Linked DNA regions of Homo sapiens. The protein of the gene in region 2 interacts with the protein of the main gene of each other region in a pairwise test. Each region holds a gene or a part of one and is shown on either strand. Other genes may lie near its edges.

Region 1 (3,593 bases), on a different chromosome or scaffold from region 2:
CTCCCAAGTAGCTGGGATTACAGGCGCGAGCCACCACACCTATTATTTTTTTTTTCTTCTGTATTTTTAGTAGAGACGGGTTTTCACCATGTTGGCCAGGCTGGTCTTGAACTCCTGACCTTGTGATCCGCCCACCTCGGCCTCCCAAAGTGCTGGGATTACAGGCATGAGCCACCATGCCCCGCCGCTTTACACATTCTTAAAAAATGTTTTAAAATGGACTTGAATAATTGCTTAATGATGGTTTCGTATCCTGTCAACTCAAACTGCCTAAGGGAATGGTCAGTGGTAGAAGCAGTCTGAGGAAACCAATGAGCCTTACTTACAGGTTTCAATAGGATAAAGGATTGAGCCAGCAAATTGCTCAGGAAGTGGTCATGAGCCAATCGGATGCTTTCAAAGTCTCGGGTAGAATTGATCTGATGAAGCAGCTGGGAGAACTGAGACTCCAACACATCTACCTGATAGACATTACAAAAAATTTTAGCACTTTGCATATTCTAAGCACTCGAAGACATTAAGATGCCTGACAGATTGAAATGAAAATGCTTTGCCTCCACTCATCTTCCTTCTAACCAAGTCACATTAAGGCTGACCAAAGACACCCTTATATTGCCCAGCCTTGTAGGAAGTTATTTGCATAATTCTGAACCCCCTCCCTCCAACGTCCTGGCTGACCACTCTCCCCTGCCCCATCCTTTTCTCTTTTTCCTTTTTTTTTTTTTGAGACGGAGTCTTGCTCTGCCACCCAGGCTGGAGTGCAGTGGTGCGATCCTGGCTCACTGCAACTTCCACATACCAGGGTTCAAGCAATTCTCCTGCCTCAGCCTCCTGAGTAGCTAAGATTACAGGTGCCCGCTACCACGCATGGCTAATTTTTGTATTTTTAGTAGAGAAGGGGTTTCACTATGTTGGCCAGGTTGGTCTCGAACTCCTGACCTCAGGTGATCTGTTTGGCTCAGCCTCCCAAAGTGCTGGGATTACAGGTGTGAGCCACTGCGCCCAGCCTCCCCTGCCCCATCCTAATCCACTCATGGCCACATTCCGTCTACTGACTGACTTGGTCACCTACAGGATTCCAGAAGTTATAGCAAACAATAAAAATAAGGGGCAAGTCAACAATAAATAATAGATTGTTGATGAGGATTCTTTAAAATGCCTTTAAGAGGCTGGTGTGGCGGTGGTTCATGCCTATAATCCCAGCACTTTGGGAGGCAAAGGCAGGAGGATCATTTGAAGCCTGGAGTTTTTTTTTTTTGGAGACGGAGTCTCACTCTGTTGCCCAGGCTGGAGTGCAATGGCATGATCTTGGCTCACTGCAACCTCCACCTCCCAGGTTCAAGCGATTCTCCTGCCTCAGCCTCCCAGGTAGCTGGGACTACAAACAGGCGCCACCACGCTTGGCTAATTTTTTTGTATTTTTAGTAGAGATGGTGTTTCACCATGCTGGCCAGGCTGGTCTCAAACTCCTGACCTCAAGTGATCCGCCCATCTCAGCCTCCCAAAGTGCTGAGATTACAGACGTGACCCATGACACCTCGCTGAAGCCAGGAGTTTGAGACCAGCCTGGGCAACAAAGTGAGAATCCATCTCTACAAAAAATAAAAACAAACCAGCTGGGTGTGGTGGCATGTATCTGTAGTCATAGCTACTTGAGAGGCTGAGGCAGGGGGATCACTTGAGTCCAGGAGCTTGAGGCTTCAGTGAGCTATGACTGTACCACTGCATTCCAGCCTGGGAAACAGAGAAAGACCCTGTCTCTAAAAAATAATAAAATAAAATAAAATAAAATGCTTTTTTTATTTTAAGAAACATGCTTGGTGATATAACTCCTGAATTTTCCCAAACCCCACCATTTTATCAAATAGAAACTTGTAGTCCCTATTCAATACTCCCTGCCAACCTCCTAGACGTTTTTCCGTACCCCTTCCTTCTACTCATCTCTTAGCACAGACCTGGAGATAGTACTGAAGATTATCCACCAAAAATGCCATGTGATTTCTTAGGCGCCACTTGATTGCATCAGTCTGGTTCGACTTGAGGTGCTTGCGCTGCATTTGTAGGGCCCAGCAGTGCTGCAGCTCAGCTTGCACCCGGCGCACACTCAGTAAGTACTTAAAAACAACATTGTACCTAGGACAGAAATAACAGGATATTCAAGACAAAAATTTCATCCCCTGCACTTCCCCCACACGACAGACTCTAGGACTTTGTGCCACCCACTCCTCTCACAAACAGGCAGTAAGGAAAGAGTGACTAGAGATGTAGACAAATAAATTATAATTTATTTATACAATGGAATATTATATAGCAGTCGAATGAACTCCAGCTATACAACAAGATGAGACCCCATCTCTGCATTTTTTAGATAACTTGGGAAATTTCAGTGTGGACTGGATATTAGATTATACCCTTATAATCTTTTTGAATGGTTGACTCGTGTTGCTTCTCATATTCAAAAACATGATTTTTGAATGAAAAAGGTAAATCACAAAAGATTACATATAGCCTTTTCTATAATTCTTAAAGCAGGCCAGGTGTGTTGGCTCATGCCTATAATCCCGGCACTTTGGGAGGCCAAGGCAGGAGAATTACTTAAGCTCAGGGGTTCAAGACCAGCCTGAGCAACATAGTGAGATGCCATCTCTACTAAAAATTAAAAAAATTAGCCAGGTGTGGTGGTGCCCACCTATAGTCCCAGCTGCTTGGGAGGTTGAGGCAGGAAGATTGCTTGAACCCAGGGTTCAAGGCTGCAGTGTGCTGCCTGGGCAACAGAGCAAGACCCTGTCTCAAAAAAAATAGTGTGTTATGAATCAAGGATTATGATGAATCTGATTCTCTGTCGCTGAGAGCCGAAAGAAAGTAAAATAGCTTCCCTCTGAGACAGACTCCCGCTCCTGCCTCCCTGCAAGTTCAGGTGCTAACTGCTTAATGCTGAGACTCCATACTTAAAAGACACACGGGAAGAACAGCTGATTCCTGGTAGAATAGGATTTATTTACCTGTTTGTAGGTAGGCTTGCAGAAGACAGTCCCATTCTGTTTGGTTTTTAAAATTGTCTATTTCTAAAGGAACAAACATAATGAAATGATAGACCTTGTTTGGAAACTGATTTGAACAAACCCAAACATAAAGATAATTTTTAGATAACTGGAGAAATTTCAATGTAGACTGGATATTATAAGGGATTATAAGGGACTACTGTTAATTTTACTGGATGTGATAATGGCATTGTAGTTCTGTTGAAATATGCCTTTTTCAATTGTTTATTGGCAGAATGAAATGACTGTGATTTGCTTTATACAGCTCTAGCAAAAAAGTGGGGGAGGGACAGATAAAAGTAGTATAATGTTGCTGGTTACTGAAGGTGAATAATGAGGACACAGGATTTTGTCTTCTCCCCAGTGGCTAACATCCATAGCAGACATGTAGGCTGGAGGACTTTCCCAAGTAAATCAACAAAAAATATTACAAAAGTGAGGGAGAGACCTTGTCAGGTGTGATGGAATCATCAAGGGCCATTATCTCGACATGGTGCCTAAGACCTTATTTTCCAGAGCTCACAAACTGGCAGCCAACAAACTGCTTATTAT
Region 2 (3,500 bases):
TTAGCCAGGCATGGTGGCACACACCTGTAATTTCAGCTACTCAGGAAGCTGAGGCAGGAGAATAACTTGAACCTAGGAGGTGGAGGTTGCAGTGAGCCAAGAATACACCAATGCACTCCAGCCTGGGCAACAGATAAGACTGTTTCAAAAAAAAAAATTTTTGTCAATGTTAAAGAAAAGCTAATATTGGCAGGAATGTGGTGAGACTGACATCCTGACATACACAAGCAGGACTGGGGATCAGTGTCGCCTTTCTGTAAAGCACTTTTGCAGTATAAATCAGGAGCCCTTGAAAGTTCAGAAGCTCTATTTTTGTAGTTCTTGTGCTAGATATCTTTCCCTAGAAGGTTAAAAAGAAAGAAAAAACGGGGAACGTTTTAAAAAAATAGCATTATTTATAATAATTAAAATCACTGGGCATGGTGGATCACGTTTGTAATCCCAGCACTTTGGGAGGCCAAGGCGGGTGAATCACTTGAGGTCAGGAGTTCGAGACCAGCCTGTCCAACATGCTGAAACCCCATCTCTACTAAAAATACAAAAATTAGCTGGGCGTGGTGGTGTGCACCTGTAGTCCCAGCTACTTGGGGGCTGAGGCAGGAGAATTGCTTGAACCCGGGAGGCGGAGATTGCAGTGAGCTAAGATAACGCCACTGCACTCCAGCCTGCATGACGGAGTGAGCCTCCGTCTCAATAAATAAACAAAAATTAGCTGGGTGTGGTTGTGGGCGCCTGTAATCCCAGCTACTTGAGAGGCTGAGCCATGAGAATTGCTTGAGCCTGGGAGGCAGAGGTTGCAGTGAGCCGGGATCACATCGCTGTACTCCAGCCTGGGTGACAGACTGAGACTCTGTCTCAATAATAATAATAATAATAATCACAGACAATTGATGTCCAGTGATATGGAAATGCTTAAGTGAATGATAATACATCCATACTAGATACTATGACATAATGCAGCCATAAATGTCTTAAAAAAAAAGACAGTCTCACTCTGTTGTCCAGACTGGAGTACAGTGGCATGATCACAGCTCACTGCAGCCTCAACCTCCTGGGTTCAAGCAGTCCTCCTGCCTTAGCCTTTCTAGCAATGGCAATGTCTCATATTTTTTTCATAATATAGATTGCTTAAGAAATAGTGTGACATAGGACAGGTGTGGTGGCTCATGCCTGTAATTCCAAGTACTTTGGGAGGCTAAGGCAGGAGGATCACTTGAGGCCAGGAATTTGAGACCTCATTTATACCAAAAAAAAAAAAAAAAAAAAAAGAAGCAGCAGCAGGTGTGGCACGTGCTTGTAGTCCTAGCTACTTGGAAGGCTGGGGCAGGAAGATCCCTCGTGTTCGGGAGCTTGAGTTTGCAGTGAACTATGATCATACCACTGCAATCCAGCCTGTGAGATCCTATCTCTGGAAAAAAAAAAAAGAGAGAAAGAAAAAGAAAAGAAAAAATAACATGAAGTAAAAACCAGTAACAAAAATTAAAAAGCAAATTCAGCAGCACATTCTTTTAGCAGCCAGTTACTCTTCAGGTGCTTTCCATACTAATAGTCATAACAGACTTGTGAGATAGGCCCTATTTATTGTCTGTTTTATAGATGAGGAAAATGGAGCAGGAACACAGCTACCTGAGGCTGCACAGCTCATTGGAGCCATTTATGTGATTGGAGCCCAGCACTTTGGCTTCAGAGTCCTTGTTCCTGACCATAACACTCTAGCAGAGCTGGTCAGGATTCAGAGTACCTGAAAGCATGATCCAATTTTGGTTGTCTCAAGATTGTTTCTTTTTCAAGTATATGAAAAAAGGGCAGTTGTGCTAGGGTATTGAGAGTGGTTTTTTCTGGTTTATAAGATTATGGGTAGTTATTACTTTTATAAGATAAAAAATATAAAGGATTTTAAAGCATGGACTAGAAAAGAGTAAGAAAATAGACTGAAAAATAAAAGTGTGATTGTATTGAGATTATTTTTACTTCTTTTAAGAAATATTTTCTATTATGTAGATAAATTCACTCTTATAAGAAAACTTTTAAATGAATTACTGATTACAAACCAGCCATCCTAGTAATTCTGGAAGCTGATGCTCGTGTTGATTTTTCCCCCCTTGGGACAGGGTCTCACTCTGTCACCCTGCTGGAGTGCAGTGGCGCGATGACAGCTCACTGCAGCCGCGACCTTCCGGGCTCAGGTGATCCTCCCACCTCAGCCTCCTGGGTAGCTGGGAGTACAGGCACATGCTACCATGCCCAGCTAATTTTTGTATTTTTTGTAGAGACAGAGTTTTGCCATGTTGCTCAGGCCAGTCTCAAACTCCTGGGCTCAAGCGATCCGCCCACCTTAGCCTCCTAAAGTGCTGGGATTGTAGGCGTGAGCCACCTCATCCGGCCCTCATGTCAGTTTTTACAGGAGATGGGGATGCTGCTGGGCTTTGATCCCTATGTATGTGCAAGCAAGGAAAGCTCAGAGACGCAGGAGGGCAGGAGGAAAACACTAGCCGTAGTTCTCTCTGGAGGGCAGGTTTTACACAATTACTCTTAGCTCTTTGGTTTTCAGGTTTCTCACCTTTCTGCATTAGACATTGATATAATATTTGAAGCATATGAAGTGTGCTTGAGTTATTTTTGTAAGGAAAAAAAGTGTTAAGAAACATTGCTTTAATGTTTTCTATATTTTCTCAAAAGTTCTAGGCTCAGAAACCTTATTACTCTTGTACTAGTTTCTTTTCTCTCTGCCTCCACAGGAAGGAAGAGGGAATGGTTTAAAATAGAAGACGCCATAAAAGTGCTGCAGTATCACAAACCCGTGCAGGCATCATATTTTGAAACATTGAGGCAAGGCTACTCAGCCAACAATGGCACCCCAGTCGTGGCCACCACATACTCGGTTTCTGCTCAGAGCTCGATGTCAGGCATCAGATGACTGAAGACTTCCTGTAAGAGAAATGGAAATTGGAAACTAGACTGAAGTGCAAATCTTCCCTCTCACCCTGGCTCTTTCCACTTCTCACAGGCCTCCTCTTTCAAATAAGGCATGGTGGGCAGCAAAGAAAGGGTGTATTGATAATGTTGCTGTTTGGTGTTAAGTGATGGGGCTTTTTCTTCTGTTTTTATTGAGGGTGGGGGTTGGGTGTGTAATTTGTAAGTACTTTTGTGCATGATCTGTCCCTCCCTCTTCCCACCCCTGCAGTCCTCTGAAGAGAGGCCAACAGCCTTCCCCTGCCTTGGATTCTGAAGTGTTCCTGTTTGTCTTATCCTGGCCCTGGCCAGACGTTTTCTTTGATTTTTAATTTTTTTTTTTTATTAAAAGATACCAGTATGAGATGAAAACTTCCAATAATTTGTCCTATAATGTGCTGTACAGTTCAGTAGAGTGGTCACTTTCACTGCAGTATACATTTATCTACACATTATATATCGGACATATAATATGTAAATAAATGACTTCTAGAAAGAGAAATTTGTTTAATTTTTCAAGGTTTTTTTCTCTTTTAATTTGGGCATTT
Region 3 (3,593 bases), on a different chromosome or scaffold from region 2:
TGGGAGATTTCTCAATCTGACCTCCTTTTTTTTTTTTCTGAGATGGACTCTTGGTCTGTTGCCCAGGCTAGAGTGCCATGGTACAATCTCCGCTCACTGCAACCTCCGCATCCTGGGTTCAAGTGATTGTCCTGCCTCAGCCTCCCGAGTAGCTGGGATTACAGGCATGTGCCACCACGCCTGGTCAATTTTTGTATTTTTTTTGGTAGAGAAAGAGTTTCACCATGTTGGCCAGGGTGCTCTCGAACTCCTGACCTTAAGCAATCCACCCACCTCGGCCTCCCAAAGTGCTGGGATTACAGGCGTGAGCCACCGTGCCCGGACTCAATCTGACCATCTAATTTTCAACTGTACTCCATGATTACATTATAACCATTCTGTTATTCCTGCTATATACCGTGTTCTTCATTTCAACTATTATATTGTTCACACCTAATGTTTTTGCTTGGCTCTCTTCTTCTTGTCCTTGTTTCATATTGCTAATATTTTCTCATTTCTTTTAGTATGGTTACCGCTCCCCAGTTTAAAATTCTTGGTCAGCAGTTCTAATATTGTTGCTCCTGACCAAAACTTGTAGTTGATTGTGTTGTTTTTCTTTTGAAATGTACTCTTGGCCAGGCGTGGTGGCTCATGCCTGCAATTCTAGCACTTTGGGAGGCCGAGGCGGGCAGATGGCCTGAGCTCAGGAGTTCGAGACCAGCCTGGGCAACACGGTGAAACCCTGTCTCTACTAAAATACAAACGAAATTAGCTGGGTGTGGCAGAGTGCACCTGTAGTCCCAGCTACTCAGGAGGTGAGGCAGGAGAACTGCTTGAATCTGGGATGCAGAGGTTGCAGTGAACCGAGATCACACTACTGCACTCCAGCCTAGGCAACAGAGCCAGACTCCATCTCTAAAAAAAAAAAAAGAAATATATTCTTAAAATATCTTTTTATTTTAGCCTACAAACTGCTTTTCATCCATGAGTATCAGCTATCCCATCAGGCACTGGAATGGAGGGGGCCCCAGTCCATGCTAGTACTAGTAAGTTCTGGGTAGGGGGTGGATGAGTCCTAGGAGTGGGGGGCCCCAGGCACACAGGAACCATAGTTAACCACTCTTCACCTACAGAAGAGCTCCTCAGGTCAAAGCTTCACTGTACAGTCCCCTTCTACCCCAGCAAAGCAGCATCAAAAGGAAGTGATCCTGGGTTATAGTTCACAGCTCTAGGGGTTGGAGCAGGAGGGGTAGGGAAGTAACTGCCTTTAGTTAGTGTCCACCTGTTTTCCTGAGTGATTTGCAAAGACAGGACTTTTATGCCAAAACCTCTGTTTTAGAAAAAAGTAGAGGACAATATTTTTTAACTTTGAGGTATAGAAGCAAGACAAAATACAAAAGTTTCAAAGAAAAAGATTTGATAAATTCAACTAAAAATTTCTAAAAATTAAATTTCTATATGACAGTGGGCAGCATAAACAAAGTTAAAATAATGACAGACTAGGAAGATAGATTTACAACATTTACACCAAATAAGGAATATCCAGAATACATAACAATTTCCATAAGTAAAAAGAAAAAGAAAATGGGAAAAGGTTCTAAGTTAAGTATTTCACGGAAGAGAAAAAATATGAATGGCTAGTAAACAGCTCACCAGTGATGTGGGAAGTGTGAGTTAAAATAGTGAAATCCCATATTTTGTTCATTAAACTGGCAGATATTTTAAAGATTGAAAATATCTGGTATTGGTGAATGTATAGGGAAATGGACATGTAATGGTACAGGCTGAACATCTGAAATTGGAAATCCTAAATGCTTTAAAACCCCAAACTTTTTGAGTGCCCACATAATGATCAAAGGAAATGCTCATTGGAGCATTTAGATTTTAGAGTTTCTGATTTGGTATGCTCAGTTGGTATAATGTACATATTCCAAAATCTGAATAAATGTGAAACCCGAAACACTTTTAGTCCCAAGCATTTCACATAAGGGATACTTAACAGCCTAGTGGTATAAACTTGAATAACCTTTTTAAGGGACCTTTTAACCATTTCTTGTTGAATTGAAAAATGATACTCTTAACAATTCTAAGGAAATAGTCACTGTGCATTAAAGAGCTGCACAAAGATATTCATGGCAGCATTTTTTGTTGTCAACTGTATATAATATGAACTGCATAATGTAAACATTATAAACAGAAATGTCCATCAGCAGGTAAATGGTTCATTCAATTAATAGTATATCCATACAGTTAAATGGAATGAAATAGATCCATATGTACAGACCCAGAAATTTTTGCATAATTTAGTAATTATGAAAAGTTATACAGGACAGTTGTGCTAGCTTTTGCCTGTAATCCCAGCATACTCGGAGGCCAAGGCAGAAGGACTGCTTGAGGCCAGGAGTTTGACACCATCCTGGGCAACATGGTGAGACCCTGTCTCCACACACACAAATTTAAAAATTAACCAGGCTCCCAGATCACAGCATGTTGACCAAAAAAAAAAAAACCGAAAACCAAAAAACAAATGCCAGGCATGGTGGTGCATGCCTGTGGTCCCATCTGCTCAGGAGGCTGAGGTGGGAGGATGGTTTGAGCCCAGGAGTTCAAGGCTACAATAAGCAATGATCACCCAACTGCACTCTAGCCTGGGTGACAGAGTGAGACCCTGTCTCGAAAAAGAAAAAAAGTAATAGAACATTAAATACAGTATCACACCATTTATGGTTAAAAAAGAAAAAAGACAAGACACTATATGAAGTGAGTGTCTTTTAAAGTTTAAAAAATTAAATGAAAACATGCTCAGTATAGATTCTTTTATATTTTTGAATGACTTCACCACAGAATGCCTTGTAAGGCAATTAAGAATTTTCCTTTCAAAACTGATGGAAGAAAATAAAAATTGGTCTGTGGAAAGAGTTGATTTCAAAGATTGGATTTTTTTGTTTTTATTATTCAAAGTCATTTAACATTTATAAAAATATTCTTACAATCTTTAATTTGGACATGACATAATTTAAACTTCAGATAATTTTAAAGCCCTTAATAAGATCCATCTAATCGTAGGGACCTCACAGTAGTCTTTAGTGGAAAGAAATTGGCTTTTGCTTTGGGCCCACTTGCTTGTGGCAGTGAACACTATCTTGTCAGCAGAACTACTTGCAGTAGTTCTGACCTCAGACTTCCAAATGTGAGCAAGCTTGACTTCTAGCCTACTCCTAATCACCTCTGCTAATGGAGTTCACAGAGAGGTAGAGAGAAGATCCAAAATAAATGGTAGTCACTGAATCATTTATATTTGGTTTTGAAGTTCATTTAAAATATTGCTTTGTAGCAGACTTTCTTCCCTAATGGTAAAATGAATGTGCATCCATTAGTAGTCTCCAGCTGCATGGCATCATAGTGTTCATGAAAGTGAATTTATTGCATACATTCCAAATAGATAACATACTTGAAAGGATTAAACATTCATGATGCTGTCAATCAAAATACTTTCTTCCTACATTAGTGGCATACTCTGAATGACCTAGTGAACAGACTGAGAAGAGGCCTCTGAATTGCAGAGTCTCGTCTGTAGGAGAAGGTTCAGGAGAGTATTGAATTTTAGGGACTAG
Region 4 (3,593 bases), on a different chromosome or scaffold from region 2:
TACCAGTGAGGTGGAAACTAAAATAAAATAATAAAATTACTATCATTTATGGATCAACTACTAAGCACTGTGCTAGGCACTTTACAAACATATATAAAATGTTTATTCAAATTCTATTATTAGTTCATGAACATAAAATGAATTCTGTTCAACTGAATTATCACATCTACCACATTTGGTGTATCTAATTTTAAAGTACTGTTTAAAAATTACTACTTTTTTTTTCCATTTTAGTTTACTTATGTATGGCTTAGATTTTAATTACATATGGAGTTCTACATGGTTCAACTTTAAGAAATACAGGATCATAAGGATTTTGGCAAGTTAATGAAAAAGAAGCAAAACATGAGCACAAAAGCCTTCAATGTGATAATAAAAATAAACATATTTAGCTTGCCATGACTGGTACAGATATGCAAACTCTGGGTCCAAATCAAGGCTCTAAACTTCCTATCTGAATAAGTACTTTATTTAATCTCCGGTGAGTCCTGTTATTCTCATGGGTAAAATGAAATAGTGTAATACCTACCTTACAGCGTTCTATATAAACAAGGCACTCAGCACAATGCCCATAACATAATATACACTCAATAAATGTTAGGTAAGTAGCAGTAATAATAATAGTACCCACTATGCGGGTAGGAATACAGAGAAAGCAGTGATTTTACGAAATGAAGAAGACAATCTCCAAATTCACTAACTACAATGCCATCTCCATCATCTTTTCCAATTTTTCACCAATAAATTCTGCTTTATTTTTATGATCTCTAAGGACTTCTAAAATCACAAATTGACTCTACTAACTCCAGCAGCTAGACCCTTTCACAAGCTGCTTCCTTTCCCTCTTGTCCATAGCTCCATAAGGACAACGATTTGCCCTATTTTTGTTCACTGCTATATCCCCCATACTTATAAAAGTGCCTGCCACATATCAAACACGCAAGAAAAAGTTGTTGATGTATGCATGTGTGAATGAATGAATGAATAAATAAATAAATGGCATATTTCTAACCACAAACAAAACAAGGAAAACAAACTGCAAAAGAACACAAGGCGATGGTATATAAGAAACAACTAACGAGACAAACTGTATCCTCCAAGGGCTTAGCCACCATGTTAGATGTGGCACATCTGTGATATAATCCCAGGCTACATTAAATAGCCTACAACAGGAGGTGCCACAACAGTCCAGAGCCCCTCCAACATCAACACCTAACTATATTTGACACCTGGATTGAAAGAGGATTGGCAGTGGTGCAAACTGACTAAAAAGAATATTATTTTCCTTTCTTAATAAATTCTTATACTTTCATTCATCCTTACAAATAGAACTGCACAAATTCTCAAATGTTTTTAAAGGAATGTTTATAAATTTTAAAAAAACTTTTTTTAAGGTCTGTATGGTGACTGTTTAAGAAACCAAATTTTTTGTCATCAGGGAGTTTGGCAGTAGGACTCTGAACAAATTCTCATTTCCTATCAACAACTTAGCTGTACAATCTAATAAGCCTCAGTTTCCTCAGTTTTAAAATTTGAAGGTTGAACTACTATATAATCTTATGGTCCTTTGCATATAAACATTCTAAAAAGTCTATACCTTAAACATATTATTCCTCATTCCATAAAAAATCTTGAAAAAGGTGGTGGCAGGGGATAAATAAAACAGAGGGGCATTATATTATCTCCCAGCTTGATACTGTTATAATTTCTACTCGATGGGCACATATACTTCTACTGTAATCCTGAGATTTCTCACTACAGTACTCAACAAAAACTACACACTGGAATTCATAAATTTATTCAGTATATAATTACTAGGTGAAAGGGACTACTCTGGTTACTGAGAATGAAGTAGTGAGCAAGAGACACAGTCCCTACTTTCATGAGCCATGATTACAAATAACAGATGCATTATTTTTAAAAAGTTAGGTAGGTATCTATGACACTGCATGGGTGGGACTGATATTTAACTTGAGCTCTACAGGACATTAACTGAGCAACATGGGGAAGGAGAAAGTGTCTTAGGCAGAGGAAACATCAGTTGGGTCCAGAAGCACCAAGAAAGGATTTCCTTCAGTTAGATTCCTGTGACACTTAGAAGGGTCTCTGAGGCATGAAATCACCTCTGCAAAGAATTTTACTTGCTTTCAGATTCTCTTGGAGGACAGAGTTTCAATGGTATACTGACTGAGGTTCAGTTTTGACCAGTGCCCAAAGATGAGAAGCTTCTAAGTTGTACCATTTCCCATTTAAAAGCAATAGATTTGAAACTTCAAAATTGTACCATTCTCCATTTCCCCAACCCTCCCCTCCAAAATATTGCATGGCAATTATTTTCTTCTAAGTTTCCTCTTTCAATGGTTCCTGTAAATTCTTTACTGAGCCAAAACCACTTTGCAAAGAAAAACTGCTTATGTTTTCAGAAACCCCCAATTACTTTCAAAGCTTCCTCTCTGGCCCCTTGGTTTTATACCGCATGGAGCTATACTATTCAACAGCCATCTGCAAAAGGTAGATGAGCTGTCAACCAATTTTTCTCTTTTTGAACCAAATAAGACAGCCCTGCCATCTGGGCCTCTCTGAAAACTACTGCCCAGATAGTGGAGCTATAAAATCAGAAGCCATGTTGTTTTGGGAACACTTCACTAAGGAGAGAAGACCCAGGCTCTCACTGACCAAGGGAAGGCAGGACTTTATATGTAAAGGCAGGAGATAAAATAAGTCTCTCATTATTAACTTGGGTTTCCAAAGATTTAAGAATTATCTCAAAACAAAACTAAACATGCCAAGTATCTTAGAGAATACATTCCTTTTTTATTTATTGGCATTTCCCACTTAATATTTTAGATCTCCTGCTCTAATATATTCTACATTAAGTCCCTGATTTAAGTTTCATTTAAATTTCTTTCTTTTAAATACATATCTCTCCTCATTTAAATTCTCTAGAGTTTCAAGCAAAGAAGTAGGAGTTTAGTGTAAACTTTTCTTGTTTGCATTAAGTAATTGGATAGCTTGCCTAAGCTTAATGAAACAAATACCAGTCAGTGCTGCCCTTAGACCTCAAGCCCTAGCAACTTAGCTCTTTCCTCAGTATATTGTCAATCAGGCGAGGGACTTAAGGTACACCAGCAAAATGAATTCCTAAAAGCCAGCCAAATCTCCTATAATAAATATTATTACATGTCCTTTTAAATGGGAAAACAAATTAACTACTTATAAAACATTCAACTTTCATGGACAGCAGGTATAAAATCTAGTTCTCTATATTTTAGTCCCAGGGTAAAAACTAGCCAGTTTGACTTTACTCTAAAGAACCTCAAGTTTTTAAGAAAGTAGAAAGAGAATTTTAAAGATAACTTTAGCAAGGCATTAACATATTGAACTTCATTCACCTCCATAAGGGAGGCATTACTAGCTCTAGTTTTTTTGTTTTTTGTTTTTTTGAAACATGGTCTTGCTCTCTTGCCCAGGCTGGAGTGCAGTGGCATGATCTCGGCTCACTGCAACCTCTGCCTCCCAGGCTCAAGCAATCCTCTTGCCTTAGCCTCCCAAGCAGTTGGGACCACAGTTGCATGCCACCAAGCCTGGCTGAT

The links.
Region 1: the proteins of NUDT3 (region 2) and TUBGCP4 interact in a two-hybrid assay, tested with the Homo sapiens proteins (one large-scale study listed by BioGRID and IntAct).
Region 3: the proteins of NUDT3 (region 2) and REEP5 interact in a two-hybrid assay, tested with the Homo sapiens proteins (one large-scale study listed by BioGRID and IntAct).
Region 4: the proteins of NUDT3 (region 2) and CHCHD3 interact in a two-hybrid assay, tested with the Homo sapiens proteins (one large-scale study listed by BioGRID and IntAct).

Annotation. Positions count from the first base shown.
Region 1 is NC_000015.10:43,398,584-43,402,176, reverse strand, and holds part of TUBGCP4 (gamma-tubulin complex component 4), read right to left. Parts: intron 3,066-3,593; coding exon of another isoform or gene 3,050-3,065; exon of another isoform or gene 3,003-3,049; intron 2,134-3,002; coding exon 1,956-2,133; intron 462-1,955; coding exon 327-461; intron 1-326. UniProt on the Homo sapiens protein: Component of the gamma-tubulin ring complex (gTuRC) which mediates microtubule nucleation.
Region 2 is NC_000006.12:34,288,170-34,291,669, reverse strand, and holds part of NUDT3 (diphosphoinositol polyphosphate phosphohydrolase 1), read left to right. Parts: intron 1-2,738; coding exon 2,739-2,917; 3' UTR 2,918-3,500. Other genes in the region: RPS10-NUDT3 protein, read left to right, coding at 2,739-2,917. UniProt on the Homo sapiens protein: Cleaves a beta-phosphate from the diphosphate groups in PP-InsP5 (diphosphoinositol pentakisphosphate) and [PP]2-InsP4 (bisdiphosphoinositol tetrakisphosphate), suggesting that it may play a role in signal transduction.
Region 3 is NC_000005.10:112,898,158-112,901,750, reverse strand, and holds part of REEP5 (receptor expression-enhancing protein 5), read left to right. Parts: intron 1-3,379; exon of another isoform or gene 3,380-3,593. UniProt on the Homo sapiens protein: Plays an essential role in heart function and development by regulating the organization and function of the sarcoplasmic reticulum in cardiomyocytes.
Region 4 is NC_000007.14:132,977,561-132,981,153, forward strand, and holds part of CHCHD3 (MICOS complex subunit MIC19), read right to left. Parts: intron 1-3,593. UniProt on the Homo sapiens protein: Component of the MICOS complex, a large protein complex of the mitochondrial inner membrane that plays crucial roles in the maintenance of crista junctions, inner membrane architecture, and formation of contact sites to the outer membrane.